2 linked regions of the Homo sapiens genome follow. The protein of the gene in region 1 interacts with the protein of each later gene in a pairwise test. Each region holds a gene or a part of one and is shown on either strand. Other genes may lie near its edges.

What was found.
Region 2: the proteins of RBM19 (region 1) and PTPN12 interact in a two-hybrid assay, tested with the Homo sapiens proteins (one large-scale study listed by BioGRID and IntAct).

The regions. Positions count from the first base shown.
Region 1 is NC_000012.12:113,938,736-113,942,554, reverse strand, and holds part of RBM19 (probable RNA-binding protein 19), read left to right. Parts: intron 1-120; coding exon 121-231; intron 232-2,394; coding exon 2,395-2,595; intron 2,596-3,819. UniProt on the Homo sapiens protein: Plays a role in embryo pre-implantation development.
Region 2 is NC_000007.14:77,634,736-77,638,554, forward strand, and holds part of PTPN12 (tyrosine-protein phosphatase non-receptor type 12), read left to right. Parts: intron 1-1,030; exon of another isoform or gene 1,031-1,046; coding exon 1,047-1,114; intron 1,115-2,282; coding exon 2,283-2,313; intron 2,314-3,819. UniProt on the Homo sapiens protein: Dephosphorylates a range of proteins, and thereby regulates cellular signaling cascades. Dephosphorylates cellular tyrosine kinases, such as ERBB2 and PTK2B/PYK2, and thereby regulates signaling via ERBB2 and PTK2B/PYK2.

The sequences.
Region 1 (3,819 bases):
GAGCGGCATCCGTGGAATCCATTTCCATCCCAGCCTCCTCTTCAGGCTGTTGGGAGATGGGAGGGCCAGCAAGTCACCTGGCCGACAGCCAACCAGAACTCTTCCTTTCCTCTTCCACAGGAGACCAAGGGCAGCGTGGCCGTGCGCGTGGCTCTGGGGGAAACCCAGCTCGTCCAGGAAGTGCGGCGTTTTCTCATAGACAACGGGGTCAGCCTGGATTCCTTCAGCCAGGTGGGTGTTCTCGGTGGCGCCAGCCAGCCAGCAGCCACTGGAGAGTCGAGAATGGCCTTTCCAGGGGAGATGCAGATGGATTTAAGGATCTGGCCTTCTAAGGACTATTACTGATTTCTAAATTGTCTCTAAAGAAAAGAAGAAATGTTACATGGGCTGAGACAAGTGGCCTATCTGACCCTGATTCTGTCTGTCCAGAGCCATGTACAAGAGGTCTGCCTACAACCCCACAGTTCCCCCACACAGATCGGCACCCCCAACATCTCACTCCCCTACCCAGTGGCTTCCCAGAGCATCTGTTATCTGTTCGGGGACTTTGACCCTTCTTGAACCTAGCAGGGAAGAGTCCAGCACCTCCATGTGCCTGTTCTCCAGCAAGTAGCAGGTCTTAGATTTATGGATGACTGCAGCTTAGAGGGCCCCTAAGACATCATGAGACCCCTTCATTTTACAATCTGGGATACCAACGCTCAGAGTGGGGAGGTGACTTACAAGGTCAAACAGTCTATATGTGAGAGGAGCCTGGACTAAAACTCAGGGCTTCTGACTCCCAAAACAGCCCTTTCAACAGCCTTCCCAGGCCTCACATTTTTACCTCAAGATGGATGAGGAGGATGGATGAATGAAGATGTATGGGGGATGGGTGGATGGATGGATGGATGGATGGATGGAGGATGAATATGGATGGTGGATGAATGGATGGCTTGATGGTTGGATGGATGGATGGATGGATGGATGGTGGATGAATACAGATGATGCATGGATGGATGGGTAGATAGATGGATAAAATAAATATACTAATAGCTAACATTTATTAAGACTTACCAAAGCACTCTTCTAAGTTTACATGTTTAATTAGCTCATTTCATTCACATGGCCACTCTGTGAAAGCAGCTCTACTGTGCTTCCACCCTACAGAAGGAACCACAGTCACAGAGGGGTGAAGTCACTTCACAGCTAGTCATGGTGGAGCTGAGTTTGAACACAGGCCTTCTGGCCCCAGAGTCTGTCTCTCTAACTGTAACACTGCGGCCTGAGTTGCACCTAAAAGGCCCACAGGTGCCCAGCCTTTCCCACCTGCAGATGGTTTTCACTCCCCTCACCTCACTCAATCCTCATAGTAACCTTGTGTGGCCTCTATAAGATGGGTGTGACTGTTAGCCCATTTTGCAGATGAGAAAAATTGAGGCCCACAGAAACAAGGTAATTGACCCAAGGTCTCAGGTTACATTAGCGGCTGAGCTAAGACTTATTCCCAGATAGGCCATATGCCTAGATTTTTCCATTATATTTTATTGGCTCTTTTATCCTCCTCCAACATTATTTTTTAATAAAATTATTGCTAACGTTTTCAGAGTGCTCATATTACATGTACTTTTACTAACCCATTTAATGAAAACTTTTCCTGGAGCGATCCTGTGAAATAAATGCTCTGTCCTTGCTGTCGCTGCGGGAGCTGAGGCACAGTTAAGTACATTTCTCAAGGCTGAATAGCTTAGTCTTTTAGTTTTGGTTCTCCCAGAAGCAGATTCTGAGACAAGGATTCAAGGGCAAACAGTTTTGGGGGCAGTGCAGAAAACTCTGGTGAGAAAGGGATGCAGGGAAGGGAAGGAGCCCAGGGTGCAGAGTGTGCTGCTGCAGTACGCTGCCCTGTGGCTGCCTGGAGCTCTGCCTAGGGGAAAGCCTGCAGCACTCATACCTCAGTCTCATCCCACCCAAGGACAAGGAGTGCAGCAACTCCTGAGAGCTGTGGGCTGCTCCCAGGGGGCGTTAGCTCTGCAGCACGTCCTGCTGGCTGCACGTGGTAGCAGGTGGGCGGTCTGTAGTTCAGGAAAAAAAGCCTTGGTACTGAGATGCAGACCCCAGCCACTGGAAGCCTTGGAAAGTGCGGCCCTGCTCAGGAGTGGAGGAGGGGCTGGGATTTGATCCAGAAGCTCCAGCTTCAGAGTCCCAGGCCTTACCCCCTCTGCAGAGCTGCCTTGCAGCCTTGCAGGGAGCATCATGCCAGAGAGGGTCGTTCCTCCTGGGTCTTCCTCCTAAGTGCCTGGTTGCTGAGGTTCCAAATGGAGAGCCTTGTCTGGAGAGCCCCACGATCCCTGCTGGTGTCAGCTGGGGACCCTCCTCCCTCCTGTGGTCCCATGTGTGTGCATTTCCTCTTTGCAGGCTGCAGCAGAGCGAAGCAAGACTGTGATTCTGGTCAAGAACCTCCCGGCAGGCACCCTGGCGGCCCAGCTGCAGGAGACCTTCGGCCATTTTGGCAGCCTGGGCCGCGTGCTGCTGCCAGAGGGCGGAATCACTGCCATCGTGGAGTTCCTGGAGCCCCTGGAGGCCCGCAAGGCCTTCAGGCATCTGGCCTATTCCAAGGTAGGGCTGCTGGAGACCCAGAATTGATCTGGAGAAGGACCAGTGAGGGCTGCTTCAAGGGAGAGGGTGCAGTGGGCTATGGATTCACAGATGTGGCACATGGGAGCTCACCCTAAACCGCCCGTCACGATCATGGCTGAATATCATCCCTGCCGCCTGAAAACCTGTCTGGATGGGAAGAATGGGAGACGGAAGTTCTTTTTTTTTTTTGAGACAGAGTCTTGCTCTGTCACCCAGGCTGGAGTGCAGTGGCGCGATCTCTGCTCACTGCAAGCTCCGCCTCCCGGGTTCACGCCATTCTCCTGCCTCAGCCTCCCAAGTAGCTGGGACTACAGGCACCCGCCACCCCGCCTGGCTAATTTTTTTATATTTTTGGTAGAGACGGGGTTTCACCGTGTTCACCAGGATGGTCTCGATCTCCTGACCTCGTGATCCGCCCGCCTCAGCCTCCCAAAGTGCTGGGATTACAGGCGTGAGCCACTGCGCCGGGCCGGGAGAAGGGAGTTCTGAACCATCCTCCAGAAAGCATGCCTTGGTTCCTTGCCTGACTCTAGCTTTTCTTTGGCTTTCTTTACCCATGTTAATTTGGATTAGCATTTTAATTTTAATTAAATGTGTTCATTATTTTTTTGAAAAAGTATTTATTTATTTTGAAAGACAGGGTCTCGCTCTGCCACCCAGGCTACAGTGCAGTGGCGCCATCTTGGTTCGCTGCAGCCTTGAACTCTGGGGCTCAAGCAATCCTCCCACCTCAGCCTCCCATGTAGCTGAGACTACAGGCATGCACCACCACGCCTGGCTAATTTTTTGATTTTTTGTAGAGACAAAGGTCTCCCTATTTTGCCCAAGAATGAGCATTCTTGATGCTTTTGTAATCCTGTAGCTACAATGAGATGAATGAAAGTCAGTTCTGTAGGTGGGGCTGTCTCCTGGTTCTTGGTTTAGAAAAAAGCCAACAGTTGTGTATTAGTTTGCTGGCTGTGGCTGTCATAACAAATTATTACAAGCTAGTTGGCTTGAAACAACAGAAATAGATCATCCCACGGTTCCGAAGGCCACAGTCTGAAATCAAGGTGTCAGCAGGGTTGTGCTTCCTCTGAAGGCTCTAGGGAGTCTGATCTGTGTCTCTTCCAGCTTCTGGTGGCTCCAGGCATCCCTGGCCCATGGCTGCATCACTCCAGTTTCTCCCTTCATCCTCACTTGGCTTTTCCTCTTCTCTCAGTC
Region 2 (3,819 bases), on another chromosome or scaffold:
CGGCTAATTTTTTTGTATTTTTTTAGTAGAGACAGGGTTTCACCATGTTAGCCAGGATGGTCTCCATCTCCTGACCTCGTGATCGCCCGCCTCAGCCTCCCAAAGTGCTGGGATTACAGGCGGGAGCCACCACGCCCGGCCTTGTTTTGTTTTATTTCGAGTTGGAGTTCCACTCTGTCACTCAGGCTGGAGTGCAGTGGCACGATCTGGGCTCAAGCTGTTCTCCTGCCTCAGCCTCCTGAGTAGCTGCGATTAGAGGCATACACCGTCACTCCCAACTAATTTTTTTATTAGAGATAGGGTCTCACCATGTTGGCCAGGCTGGTCTTGAACTCCTGACCTCAAGTGATCTGCCTGCCTCAGCCTCCCAAAGTGAATTTTGACTGATTTTAAGATAAATGTTAAAGAGCCAAGCACAATGGCTTATGCCTGTGATCCCAGCACTTTGGGAGACCAAGGCAGGTGGATCTCTGTTCCATTTGCCCTAGGAGTTTGAGACCAGCCTGGGCAACATGGCAAAACCCTGTCTGTATAAAATCAAAAATTAGCCAGGCGAGGTGGCATGCACCTATAGTCCCAGCTACTCAAGAAGCTGAGATGGGAAGATTGCCTGAGCCTGGGAGGTTGAGGCTCCAGTGAGCCGAGATCGCGCCTGGTCAACAGAGTGAGACCCTGTCTCAACAACAATTAAAAAGAATGTTGAAAGCAATGAAACGGTATACTTCAGTTGTCTAAGTCTGTCACGTTGTCTGTAGATTAAGCAGTATACTTCACTTGTCTGTCACATTATCTATAGACTGTAATACACTGATGACTGAATTTATTTACTTAGGTTTTGAAGGAAGGAAACAGAATGTTCTCGAATTAATAGAAACTACAATTTTTTTTTTTTAGAAACTTCAGAAATATGCTTACCCAGAAACTACAAAATTTTTGTGGAAGCGATAGTTTCTAAAATCTTTAGGATCTGTTTTTTGTATTACTTTAATGCAAAGAAATTTCAGAAATTCAAGGTGTTAATAACAATAAGATTTCATTTTTCTCAGATACACCTGTAAGATCGGAATGGAGTGAACTTCAAAGTCAGGAACGATCTGAACAAAAAAAGTCTGAAGTAAGTCCTTTTGGAATTGGAACAGTTATAGCTTAACATTTCTACTCTTTTGTTAACTAATCTTGCAGTTGTTGAAATAGCTGTCATCTTAAGATCGTTAAATATAGTTTGTAATTTTTGATCGGCATTTCTTATACTAAGATTTCAGATGAAAAGCCCATATAAAAGGTAGGTTCTGAAATTTTTTAAAAGGGTAACCTGATCTACATACAACTATCACTTTAAAGTATTGTTTTCTCAAGCTGTTTTTGAAATATGTAAATTATGCTTCAAATAATTTTGAAGGTATGAATGAAATAGGAGTTACTATTTTCAGGGTCCTAATTCTTTCTTACATTTCTAGATGCTTCCCATTATAACACTAGGCACATAGTCGCTTCTTTTGTTTTTTTCTGGCTACCTGGCATTTCTTTGACATTCGAGAAATGTTTTGGCAATTAAATATTTTGAGGGCGTGGCATGGTGGCTCATGTCTGTAATCACAGCACTTTGGGAGGCCAAGCAGAAGGATCACTTGAGCCCAGGAGTTCAAGACCATCCTGGGCAACATGGGGAGACCTTATCTCTACAAAAATTTTTAAAATTAGCCAGGCGTGGTGGCGCATGTCTATGGTCCCAGCTTTTTGGGAGGCTGAGATGGGAGGATTGCTTGGGCCCCAGAGGTCAAGGCTGCAGTGAGCCATGATCACACCACTGCACTCCAGCCTGAGTGACAGAGTGAGACCCTGTCTCAGCAACAACACATTTGTCCATAGGAGATAACATTTTTTATTAACATTAATACTTTTTGTATTTTCTCCCATACTTTAATATCTCTGAAATTTAGCTACATCTTATATTTGATTTTAAGACATGATGTAGTTTAATTGACATATAAAATACAATAATGATATAATTAGTAATAGTGGCTGGCAAAACACAGCTGTATGTTCCTTCATGCAGTAGCCCATGCTTTTCAGTGCTCATCCAGAAACATTTACTCCAAGGAGAAATAGCATAACATTTTAAAATTTTAAGCCTAATTAAAAAACAATTGTTTGCTTTTCCTCTGATGCTGAAAATGATAGGCCTTGATTTCTTGGGATATATACCCATAACAGACCCAGCTTTCTATTATTTGTATATAAAATGAATGTATTGTAATAGGTATTAAATGTCTTCCTCGTAGGGCTTGATAACCTCTGAAAATGAGAAATGTGGTAAGTTGTTAGATTTTTTTTTTCCTTTTTACTGTAGATTTTATTGATTAATTTCTACAAAATAACATGCTTCATAGTTCATGCTATATAGTTATTTCTGTATGTGAAAATGTCTAGGACAACTCTTGTAGAAGCTTAATATTGTACTATAATTCTTCCAAATTAATTATTACCACCAGATAGTAGTATTGATCTGGAAAATCATGGGAGCATTTACTATCAATAATTACAGGCTAATGGGAAAGAGATTTTTTAAAAATATTTTTCTGTTTTTTATTTTCTGTTTTTAAAAACACCTAGAAGTTAGATCCCGACTTAAATAAATGATGGAATTGCTTCTGTAGAAACCTATTGTTTTAGAAATCTTCCTTTTAGTACTTTTTCATTTATTTGTGAAGACCAATAAAATTGTGAAAGAATGAATGAATTTTAGTAGTTAACATCTTTTGTTACTAATCTTAAACACTGGTAATTAAAGAGTAAACTACAATCTAAACAACATAAAACTTTAAAAGTGGAGTTATTAGGCCTGGCGTGGTGGCTCACACCTATAATCCCAGCACTTTGGGAGACCCAGGCAGGCAATCACCTGAGGTCAGGAGTTCGAAACCAGCCTTGAGCAACATGGTGAAACCCCGTCTCTACTAAAAATAAAAAAAATAGCTAGGCGTCATGCCATCTGCCTGTAATCCCAGCTACTAGGGAGACTGAGGCAGGAGAATCCCTTGAACCCCGGAGGCAGAGGTTGCAGTGCGCCGAGATTGCGCCATTGCACTCCAACCCGGGCAACAAGAGGGAAACTCCGTCTCAAAAAAAAAAAAAAAAAAACAAGTAGAGTTATTATTTCAAGGTGCAAATAGTGCATTAATTAACCCTGACCTTGTTGATTTCTTAAAATTTTTTTTTTTTTTTTTTTTTTTTTTTTTGAGACAGAGGTCTTGCTCTGTCGCCCAGGCTGGAGTGCAGTGGCGCGATCTCGGCTCACTGCAAGCTCCACCTCCTGGGTTCACAACATTCTCCTGCCTCAGCCTCCTGAGTAGCTGGGACTACAGGCGCCCGCCACCACGCCTGGCTAATTTTTTTGTATTTTTAGTAGAGACGGGGTTTCACCATGTTAGCCAGGATGATCTCGATATCCTGACCTCATGATCGGCTCGCCTCGGCCTCCCAAAGTGCTGGGATTACAGGCATGAGCCACCGCGCCTGGCCTGACCTTGTTGATTTCTATACAAAGACATTTCAGTTGCAACTATTCCCTTAGAACATAGGCATATAGTATAGCTACCTTAAGGGAATGTAATATGTCAAGACCTAGATTTATGAAGTAAGAATAACGAGAATCCTCACATTGCAGAAGTACTCACTGCAGATTTCTGTGTGACCACAATAATACCTGACATGATTTTCTGTGCACACTACACTTGTATTTATATTGTTCTTGACCTGTAAAATTATGGTGCCCAGGAGAGAAAGTTTTCTCTTTTCATGCTTGCCAACATTTAAAAA